Regions from separate parts of the Homo sapiens genome. Here region 1 is linked to region 2. Evidence: fine-mapped expression QTL. A gene starts in region 2. The other region holds a variant in brackets. All regions are shown on one strand. Distances are between the middles of the regions. Region 1 overlaps ZC2HC1A (zinc finger C2HC-type containing 1A). Region 2 holds the start of IL7 (interleukin 7).

Evidence for each region. PIP is the estimated chance that this variant, and not a neighbour inherited with it, causes the effect. A credible set is the group of variants that fine-mapping cannot tell apart.
Region 1: its variant is the best candidate, but not a certain one, in a credible set for the expression of IL7 in cerebral cortex (GTEx, PIP 0.57).

The regions. Positions count from the first base shown.
Region 1 is chr8:78,709,175-78,714,561 of GRCh38, reverse strand. All of the region lies in intron 7 of ZC2HC1A (zinc finger C2HC-type containing 1A), which reads right to left. It also overlaps a transcript of IL7 not described here. Among named protein-coding and RNA genes, the nearest start is that of ZC2HC1A, 46 kb to the right of the region's middle. The variant T/C (reference allele first, on the strand shown) is at 3,180.
Region 2 is chr8:78,802,697-78,808,083 of GRCh38, reverse strand. IL7 (interleukin 7) reads left to right here and starts at 2,621. Exons shown (of 6, transcript NM_000880.4): 1 at 2,621-3,171. The coding sequence starts at 3,162. MITA1 (metabolism induced tumor activator 1) reads right to left here and starts at 3,612. Exons shown (of 3, transcript XR_002956715.2): 1 at 2,389-3,612.

The DNA of each region.
Region 1 (5,387 bases), 94 kb after region 2:
GGGAATTCAAATGAATTTAGATTCAAATGCTAATGCTACTGACAGCTTTGTGACAGCAAGTCTGAGTCTCATCATTTATAAAATGATCACTTATAGAAAGGTTATGAGAAAAAAAGTACAATTCATATAAACATTTAGATAGCTGATGCTAATACTATTACTACTGTTGTTGCCACTATAAGTTAACATTTATATAATAGTGCTTACTCCATGTCAAGTACAATTCTAATTATTTTGCCCATAGAAATTTATTTATCCTAATAATCCTATGAAATAGGTAGCGTTCATAACTCCATTTACAGATAAGACAAATGAGGTAAAGAGCCCCTAAGTAACTTACCCAAGGTGACCCTGCTAGTGTGTTCCAAAGCTAGGATTTAGATGTTCATTGAAGCATAGTTCCCTCCCTCTCTATAGAGCTTTAATCAAATCTTTAAATTTCACAGGTGAACAGTGTTATATGAACAGCAGAATACTTTAAAAAATACCTCCAGATTAGAGGTTCTTAAACTTTAGTTGAAATTTTTCTTACTCTACTTATATGGCAAAGTAGGAGAGAGTACCCTAAAATTGTAAATAGCTGCTTCCAAAGTACATGCAGGTAATAACAACATCCACTATTTTTCAAACAGCCACTACATGACAATTATGAAGCCAGATACTACACATGCCTTATTTAATGTCCCCCAAATCTCAGAAGATATTATTCCCATTTTAAAGTGGAAGCATGTTCAAAGAGATTATATAAATTGTGAGGCTACTACGTGGCCAGAGTAGTACTTGAACTTAAGTGGGCTGTATTACAGAACTCATATTCAATACACAATGCTGTCATTCAAAGTGGTTGCTTTGCATAGTTACTTCTTTAAATTACTTCTAAACTTCAACAAGCAAAGAATCACTTTGGTGCATGAATGGAATGCCCTGCACCTCTTCAAATGCTCACTCCAAGTCCATTCATGAGGTTTACTCTACTCTTGTGTATAGCCTCTTTGGGGATGTTGTAGAACTACTAGAGTCTTTTTCTAGAAATTCAATCTTTAGGAAATCATTGTCAAAGAATGGACTTTAAATAGGAAGAACACTTTTTTTTTTTTTGGCTATAGAATCGTCTTAAGTGCATGAGATATACAAACAATACAAACACACCCATGAATATATACACATAATGTCACCATATCGGTAACTTGAGGTTGTTCAAAATGTTTATATTTAGAGGAAAATATAAGAGATTATCATCATTAATAGCTACCAATATTAAATACCTGTCATTTATTTTTAGTAACATCTAGAATGGCCTTGATCACTTAAAACATCTTGCCCCAGTCTTACACAGTCCACAAATTTTTCTTTCTGTTCAGAATCTGCAAAGCATTACTCTTACTCTGTATCTAGAATCTACCTGTTAACAGCTCATATGAATAATTAAAGAAGGTTTAATTTTGGAATTGTACTTAATCCATCTTACTGCTAGTCACTGTTACTGTGAGATCTGCATCAGAGAGTTCTGACAGTAGAATCAGCAAAATGAAAAACGGCTCACAGCACAAACTCTTCCTGCTAGGATTTATCACTACTTAAAAATAGCAAATGGCTGCTGCTAGTATCTTAAAGACTTCTCCTACCTTTGTTTATCTAGTTAAATTTATTATTACTTTTCATACATACATACTGAGCAGACTGTTGTAGTAGGTGTTGGTTTAAAAGTTAACTAAGTTACTCTGCTTAATATTTTCCACCATTAATAGGTATATTAATTTTTAGGCCCTAATTTCATATTTAAAATGTGGGCTAGAATTGAGACCCAAATTAGTAAACCTTGAAGACTCATGCTGTAGAGTTTCAAAGTAACTGCCATTGCCACACACTCTTTTCAGCCAGCCAGGTCAGAACTGGCTGTGTCATACTCTTCCTCGAGCTTGACTCTTTGGCAGTGTCATACTTTTTCCCGGTTGTAGGCAGAATTTACAACCATCTAACAAAAAGACTAAGGACCCTTGGATTGAAAGTTTCCTAAAATCTTTTCTTTTTCTGGGCTTTTTATAATAGTTCACCATCGGCTTATCTAAGAGATAATCTAACAATATTATATACTGTACAAGACATTATTTTTCTCAAACTCTGCTTTTTAAAACTACTATTACAAAAAACCCTAATTACTACTAAAAAAAACTTCATAAAAATAATTATTAAATGTGACTGCAATTTGAAACCTCAAAAAATTAATATTTAATGGAATAAAATGTATAACCTAAAAAGTTTTATTTAGTACAACAGAAATGCTTACTAAAAATCAAAATGTTTTAAATCCTAGATTATTTGACACATTTTGGCTTAGAAATTATTCAACAGATTTTTTTAAGTATAGGACAGTAAAAGTTATGTTATTCCATTATATAAAGCTTTTAAGGAAATATCTGAAAAATATTAACCAAACTGAGTTACAAATACTTACTTGTAAATAGGTAATAACTCATGTCTTTTGATGGCACTGTCTGATTTTGTATCACTGTCATACAACCTTTGCACAAGTCTTCCCGTTCGAAGTGGAGGGCCTAACTTGTCCATATTACTATTAAAATATATAAAGGTGTACCCATAAGGAGATTGCTACTGCTTCTTTATATAAAGTTTTTTTAAAAGACATTATTCTGGTTCATCAGATATCTACTCCCCAAGTCCTTAATTTTATCTGACTGTCAAGGTAAGAACTAATGTCCAAAAGAATCCTCAGAGAGTTCATACAATGTCCATTATTAGGTCTGAAAATTCTGACTACACAGGCTACCCTACACATCCAAACAAATGTCAAATTATACACAGCAGGGCAATGGAATCAATGAAGAAACTTAGGAAGAACAACTATTTCAAAAAAAAAATCATGAAGCTATAAGTGAACTGAATGCTGTTATTCACAAATGATTTTTCTTCCTCCCAGAATTCATGGAAACTTTCTCTACTCTTCATATTATTTATTTCCGTGCTTTTTAAAATTCCAAAAATAAGGAATTGACTAAATAACATGTACTCCATTTGACTTTCTAACTCCACTGACTTCTAACAAAAAAGTGACTTTATTTCTGAAATGTATCCAAAGTAAAACAGGACTCGGCATGGAAAAAAAAAACATGGATGACAATTCTAAAAATCACATATAATAATGGTAAGGGGCCTATATA[T/C]ACACACACACATTTTGACCAAAATTATAAAGGCTCTCCATCTAGAGGATAGCAGGACAAACTGCAGGTTTGTAGGATATTTCACTGTTTTAAATCAACCAACCAAATAACTGAATCATATAAACTATCACCAACCAACATCTAGTCATAGTAGGAAGCAGGGAAAATTGAATTATGACATTAGGAAACAATCTTATTTGCTACTGAATAACACATCACTGCTTGTTAACTTTAAAAGTCTGTTCTTTTTAAGAGATATTTGCTCACTCATTTCTTTACTTATTCACTGACTATAAACCCTGAGCATCTATTATGAGCATCTATTATGTGTCAGGCACTGTGCTCCATTCTCAGGATGTGGTGGTAAATAAGATAGATCTGATACCTGTTCTTATGGAGTTTAGTGTCTGAAAAGAATGTGTTCATTTTCCTAGATTATAGATATCTAAGAGGAGGGACACATTTTATTAATTTTTGTCTTCTTTCAGTAGCTTATACATAGCAGGCATTTTGTTGAAAAAGTTGATATTAATACTTTGCAGGTGGTGGTGTTTACGTGAGGATTTAAAGTTCTTAAAAGCAGCCTTCATTAAATAAATGTATTAAGTAAAATTTCTAAAATATTTTAAATTAAAATTTGTTTTTAATTTGTTAAAGTACAAAGAAACCCATCTATTGGAATTTTAAACATTCAGATTTTATTCTAATCCTTAATTATCAAAACATTTTTCTTCCAAACAGTGGTTATCTTACATGATTCTGGAAATAAGGATTAAAATTTTTCTTTCTCAGAAAAAACTTCCTGAAATTAAAATTTAGAAAATTTTTGACTATATTTTAAAAACATATTCCTCTTATATGATAAGAAATGGTCAAATCCTACATGTGATACAACAAAGTTCAGTTCAAGAAAGATGTGTAAAATATAATAAAAACCTAAAGGTAATTATCCAATGGAAACATTACATATATAAAAAGATTGCCAATATTTTCAGATTTTGAAAACCTAATTGAAGGACAGGTTCCAGTAATGATTTTAACCATACTTGTATTATAACATTCAACTTGATTTATATGTGTGCATATATATATATGTACATTCAAAACTCAAATGTTACTTAGGCTAAAAGTTAATGAATGCTATTTTTAGGCTATAATCACTTAATAACTTACATTCTAAGTTGCCATTAGGCTATCAAAAACAAAATCTATAAATCTCAATAACAATCAAGATTTTATACATATAATACTTTCACAGGCCTTCAAAATACTCATAGCTGAATGAGTATGGTGACGATATCAACCTATCCCTGATTTGAAATAAACTTTAACATAGGAAAAGTCATTTACTGTTGATACCAGGAGAGTGAATTCACTTACGAAATAAGTAATTTTAGTGTGGCTTACTAGGTACCTTGTAGGAGTGTAGCAAGTACTGTAGATTGAGATATAACAAAAAGATGATTTCTGAAATAATATTGGGAAAAGAATTTACCGGATGGTATTTTGTATCTTTGCACACCTCTGTTGTTATGATGCTATAAGGCAATCTTGTCCAACCAGCAGCTCACAGGCCACATGCCACCCAAGATGGCTTTGAATGGGGCCCTATACAAATTCGTAAACTTTCTTAAAACATTATGAAATTTTTTTTTTTTTTTTTAGTTCATCAGCTATCATTAGCGTTCGTGTATTTTATATGTGGTCCAAGACAATTCTTCTTTCAGTGTGGCCCAGGGAAGCCAAAAGATTGAACACCCCCCTGCTCTAAGGCAGTTTTGAAATGTGTCATACCTCTACTTTTGATCCTAAATTTATCAATCCTACACAAATAATTAGTATCTCAATTCCACAGCAAAGTTAGCTCCCTATCCAAAATCTCCAATCATTGTTATCCACATAAGAAACCGAGGTCTGGAATTCTAGGTTATCACAAGCATTTCTAGATCAACAATAAAAGATAAGTTCATAAAAATTCACATAACGCTCCACACAAATTCATTTCACACACATCAAAAGACTGGATTATGAAAACAGCATGTTTCCTATTCATATAAAAATGTACTCAAAAACTAAAGACATTTACTTCTTAATGTTTTAAATAAGGTATGAGAAACAAAATGCAATTTTTTAAATTAAAAAATGCTCCATACATGCCTTTGGTTGCTCTAATTTTAGGTGTATTACAGTTGCTCTCCAAAGTAAATG
Region 2 (5,387 bases):
TATGTTGAATGTTATTACTGGAAAGTTAAATAAAAAGAACTTCATACTACCCATAGATAGAATGATAGATAGAATTCATATCACAGACTACAAAAAGTAGTCATATTAAGTTGGGTAAAAATAGTTCAGATATTAATCAAAAAATATTTTCTGGTTTACAATAATTGACTATTCTGACTGAAGACTGTAGAACATTAAAAGATATTGGTTAATGTTCAATAATTTTCTCTTTAAATTGACATCATATAATTTTATTTGAACTTCTTCTAATACATTATATTGATCATTCTGAGAATGTTGTCTTCTCTTTTAAAATTTATTTACCATAATTCATAAAATGTATTTACTATTTTCTCCCTTAAAGGCTTTTCTGTCCAGTTCATTGAGTCTATGAGCAAACATAATAGTAACCATTCCATTTCTTTAATCATAAAACATTAGCATTTTAAAAATTTATAAACATTTTATTCTTGTCCATCTATCTTATAAAAAATAATATTCAGTTTATCAAAATATCAAAAGCTAATTTAAGACTTCATTTTGGATTTTTTTCTAAATGGTATTAATTATCTCACAGACAGAAAAAAAAAATCATTACTTGATGTTGTTAGAATGTGCCCATTTCATATAACCCTAACAATTCCCAAAGCTTTATGAATATTCTCTTCAGAAAGATTCTTTATAGTTGGGGGCAGAATCCAGTGTAACATTTACATTGCCTTTCCTGCAGCTCTGAATAACTTCCTTTCATGCTTCCCAAAAGTTCAGATATGTACAACCCTTATTCTACCTGGATTTATGGTGATTGTGATAAAAGGAAGACGGATTTCCTTTTGTGCAAAGTATTGATGGATGCTCTTTTACTTTGTTCCTGGAAAGTTAAAAAAAGAAAAAGGTGCAGGCTATGAACAGTTACATACTTCAATGCTGCTGTCAGGGATTTAAAATAAATAAATAAATAAATAAATAAATAAATAAATAAATAAATCCCCAACCTAGGCGTGTTTCATTATAGAAATCATTTTTAAAACTCACTCCAGTGTCATGTCTGTCCTCCTCCCCACCTCCCACTCTAGGTTCCAGTCAAATGGAAATATGTGGCTTTTCTCACTCCATTCTGTCTCTCTTTTCCATTTGCTTACCCCCTTCGCTTCCTCTTTCATTCTATTTCCTTCTGCTTTCATGAACTTTCTCTTTCACACATATTCACTGATGCATTCCCACTCACCTGTTCTCTCTTACTCTGTCACCCCCCAGTACTTACTGAATGCCAGCCATGGGCTAAAGACCATAGTAAGTGGACGCTGGGCAGGAAGAGAAAGGCCATTGTGGCTGGAGGATAGTGATGTGGTACCACGAAACGTCAGAGAGGGCAGTGGGGCCCAGATCACCAGGGCACTGAGGGCCTGGTACCCAGTGGGAAGTGACCAGAAGGTGGGGCACAAAATAGAATCAGATATCCTGCTGCTCTGAGAAGAATGAAGGGGTTGTGGGCAAAAGTGAAAGCTGGAAGATCCCTTAGACAGTCTCTATAGTCACCTTAGGGTTAATTTTGGAGGTGGGGCAGACAGGACTTGTCTATGGATTTGATGTGGGAAATGAGACCAAAAAAGGAATCAGAGACCCAAGTTTCAGGCTTGAGCAACTCTGTTCTCCCTAGTTCATTGCCATCCTTTTTTTTCCTTTCTCCTTCCCTCCTCTTCCTTGTTCACGCTATAGCAGAATGTGACATACTCCTTACCAGCCCCAAGTTCATTCCTCTTCAAGTGTCAGTTTAGAAGTCACAGACTCCAGGAAACTTTCCTGAAGTCCCCACACTGGGGCAAAGCCACACACGTACTGTCATCTCCCTCCCGGCATCAGTGTGCACATTATTACTTTATTCACAGGAGTTCCAAGCAGGAGTTTCTACAGCCCAAATGCAGCAAGTCTGTGTCTAAGCTCAGTTAGCTAAGTGAAATTTGGAAAGTTACTTAAGGAAGTCTCAGTCCCCACATCTGTAAAGTGCAGATAAGAAAATGGTCTACCTCACACAAAGTTTTGCATGAGATGATATACATAAAATGCTTAGCACAAAACTGGCAGAGAGCAAATGCTAGATAAATGATAGTCGTTATTATTATCGCTGTTGTTACTGGTTTACATTATCCACCTTCATCTAAGCAGGGTTTCTGCAGAATAGCAGAAACCAAACTAATGTAGCAAATAAGCTACATAATTCAAGCCCAGGAAAAAGTTAACATTTCAGTGGCATGCATTCAAGACGAATAGTTTGATTTATTAGCCAATTCAGATAAATGTGCACGTGGAAGTCATAGTTAAATATTATCGTCAGTTTCCACGTCCTGCGTTTAATTTGGGGTTTGATTTTCCAAATACAACACTTACCAGATTAGGTGGACCCACAGGATTATTTTTCCTTGAGGTCTCACCTGAGCAGGTGCATGTACAGCAGACGGAGCAGAAAGAGACTGATTAGAGAGGTTGGAGTGGTAGAGGGCGTGACCCTCTTAATCATTCTTCACTTCCTTTTTTAAAAGACGACTTGGCATCGTCCACCACATCCGCGGCAACGCCTCCTTGGTGTCGTCCGCTTCCAATAACCCAGCTTGCGTCCTGCACACTTGTGGCTTCCGTGCACACATTAACAACTCATGGTTCTAGCTCCCAGTCGCCAAGCGTTGCCAAGGCGTTGAGAGATCATCTGGGAAGTCTTTTACCCAGAATTGCTTTGATTCAGGCCAGCTGGTTTTTCCTGCGGTGATTCGGAAATTCGCGAATTCCTCTGGTCCTCATCCAGGTGCGCGGGAAGCAGGTGCCCAGGAGAGAGGGGATAATGAAGATTCCATGCTGATGATCCCAAAGATTGAACCTGCAGACCAAGCGCAAAGTAGAAACTGAAAGTACACTGCTGGCGGATCCTACGGAAGTTATGGAAAAGGCAAAGCGCAGAGCCACGCCGTAGTGTGTGCCGCCCCCCTTGGGATGGATGAAACTGCAGTCGCGGCGTGGGTAAGAGGAACCAGCTGCAGAGATCACCCTGCCCAACACAGACTCGGCAACTCCGCGGAAGACCAGGGTCCTGGGAGTGACTATGGGCGGTGAGAGCTTGCTCCTGCTCCAGTTGCGGTCATCATGACTACGCCCGCCTCCCGCAGACCATGTTCCATGGTAAGCGCTCTTCTCCCTTGCGCACAAGTTCGCGCGCCCGACGCGCCGGGGCAATCCCAGACGCGCTGGGGGCCCCTGCTCCTAGGCAAGTCCGGGAATAGCCCGGCCTTGCACTTTGGACCTGCGGAGAGCACTGGCTCTCCCATGGGCAGCCAACAGCCGCGCCTGAGTATCCTGGCACATAGCCACTTGAACCTGGGGCGGCTGCTGCCCCTGGCAGGCTGCGAGTAACAGTCCCCAACGCCTGCTTTCTGTCCTGAGAGGGAACGCTGCAGCCTCCGCGCCGCTCAGCGGTGGCAGCCCACAGCCGGTCTCAGAAGCAGCCAAAGGCTCTCTGTCTGGCGCCCTTCCCGTGCTCCTGGCCGCCCCAAGTTACTCACGCAGGCGGCCCGGGTTCGGCGAGTAGCTGGGCTCTTGCAGCTCAGAACTCCCTAGAGAAGTGAAAGCGAAGCTCCCACGGGACGCGCTTTTAAACCCTAGGGGAACAGGTCTCCGGAAAACCCCATTTTTCCCCCCTGAGTAAGACTGGGAGTTTCCGGCAAGGGCTGTACCTTGCGCCTATTGCTGGGAAACCAGTCCTGGGGCTGGCGCTGAGGAAGGCCAGCTTCTGGGTTTTTTTGTTTTTGTTTTTGTTTTTGTTGTTATTTTTTCCTACGGGCGCTTCTTGATGGAGGCAGAATGAAATAGGCGTGACTCTAACTTCCAGACCAGTATTGAGACCTAATATATCTTATTTGTGCAGAATACGGATTTAGAATGGACAGGGACAGAATTCAGGAGGGTTGGATTCGGATGGCAGTCATATATGACCAATGAAAGAGCCAAAAAACTTACTGGAATTAAAAAAGAGGAAAAAGGATTGTGAGGGGAAAAGATCTGCTTAGGAAAATTGGAATGCTTTACAGTAAGTACTTCCTCAAGCAAGAAGACAGCTGGGGGGAGGGTGCGGGAATAGGAAACTGACTGCTCTTTCTTTTGATGGCTACTCCGTTAGATCAAGACTTCTTTCCACTCTCGTGGGTAAAGAATCAAGAATTGACACAACCAAGGAGTGCCAGCTCAGTAACAAAACAAAGATAGAGAGAGCGGAAAGAATAGCCAACGTAATTATGGAGGACTTCTAAGGAATGTCCTCCCGGAGCTTAATACAAAACTAAAAATTGAGCACAACCCTATTTTCCTTGCAATGCCCATAGTTCTGCAGTTTCTTCTTCTGGATCACCCTTGGTTCTAATCCTTGCAACACCTCTGCTCTAAAGTAGAAAGGTAAACTGAGAAAAGGAAGCTAGCGTGTGCATTTTTCAGAAAAAGCCTTTACTTCCTGAAGCACAGTTATATGAATCATGGGCTATAAGTTTTCATTAGCAGACAAAATATTAAAATTCTAATAATAATGATTATAATGCATGGCTTCCTGAAGTTTGTTTCAAGAAATTTCACTAGAAGCTTGTTCCATTAAGAGTGCACATAATGTTACTCTTTACCCTTTGTCTTTGCCATTTCTTTTGAGAGTTGAAGTAGTTGAGGATCTACTATGTGGTCTCCAACTGTCTTATCTGGTTTGGGTAATTTCATCATATTTGAGGACCAAAAAGTTGAATAGCAATAAAAATAGACTCTACTCGGGAGGCTGAGGCAGGAGGATTGCTTGAGCCTGGAAGTCAAGGCTGCCGTGAGCCATGATCTTACCACTGTCCTCCAGCCTAGGCAACAGAGTGATGCCCTGTCTCAAAAAATAATAATAGAGAACTAATATTAGAAACCCTGAACAAGCATAAAGGAGAATTACAAACTGCATCACGTTAGTGTTTGAATATTTTTTTAAAAAATGGAAAAGGCCATTTCATAGAACGAACTTACGTGTCATATTCACACTCATCTATGTGACTTTTTTTTCTGCTTTTAACCCTGACACATAACCTACTGTAACAAGAACAAATATTTAGTCTCTTTTTCTGAAATAAAAGCATATGATGCAGTTTCACAGTTTGGCCAGGAAGTACCTTAGTGAGGTTCATGCACAGGAAGATGGGTTTTTATGCAATCCCCTTGACTACACATATATGGTTATTTTTTAAGGAAGCAATGTAGTTCAGTGCCTAAAAGCTGAGGTTCTAGACTCTTCAATGTGACAGTCTTGGATTTGAATTCCATATCTATATTATGTACAGGAATTTTCTGACTAGGCATGGTGGCTCAAGCCTGTAATCCCAACA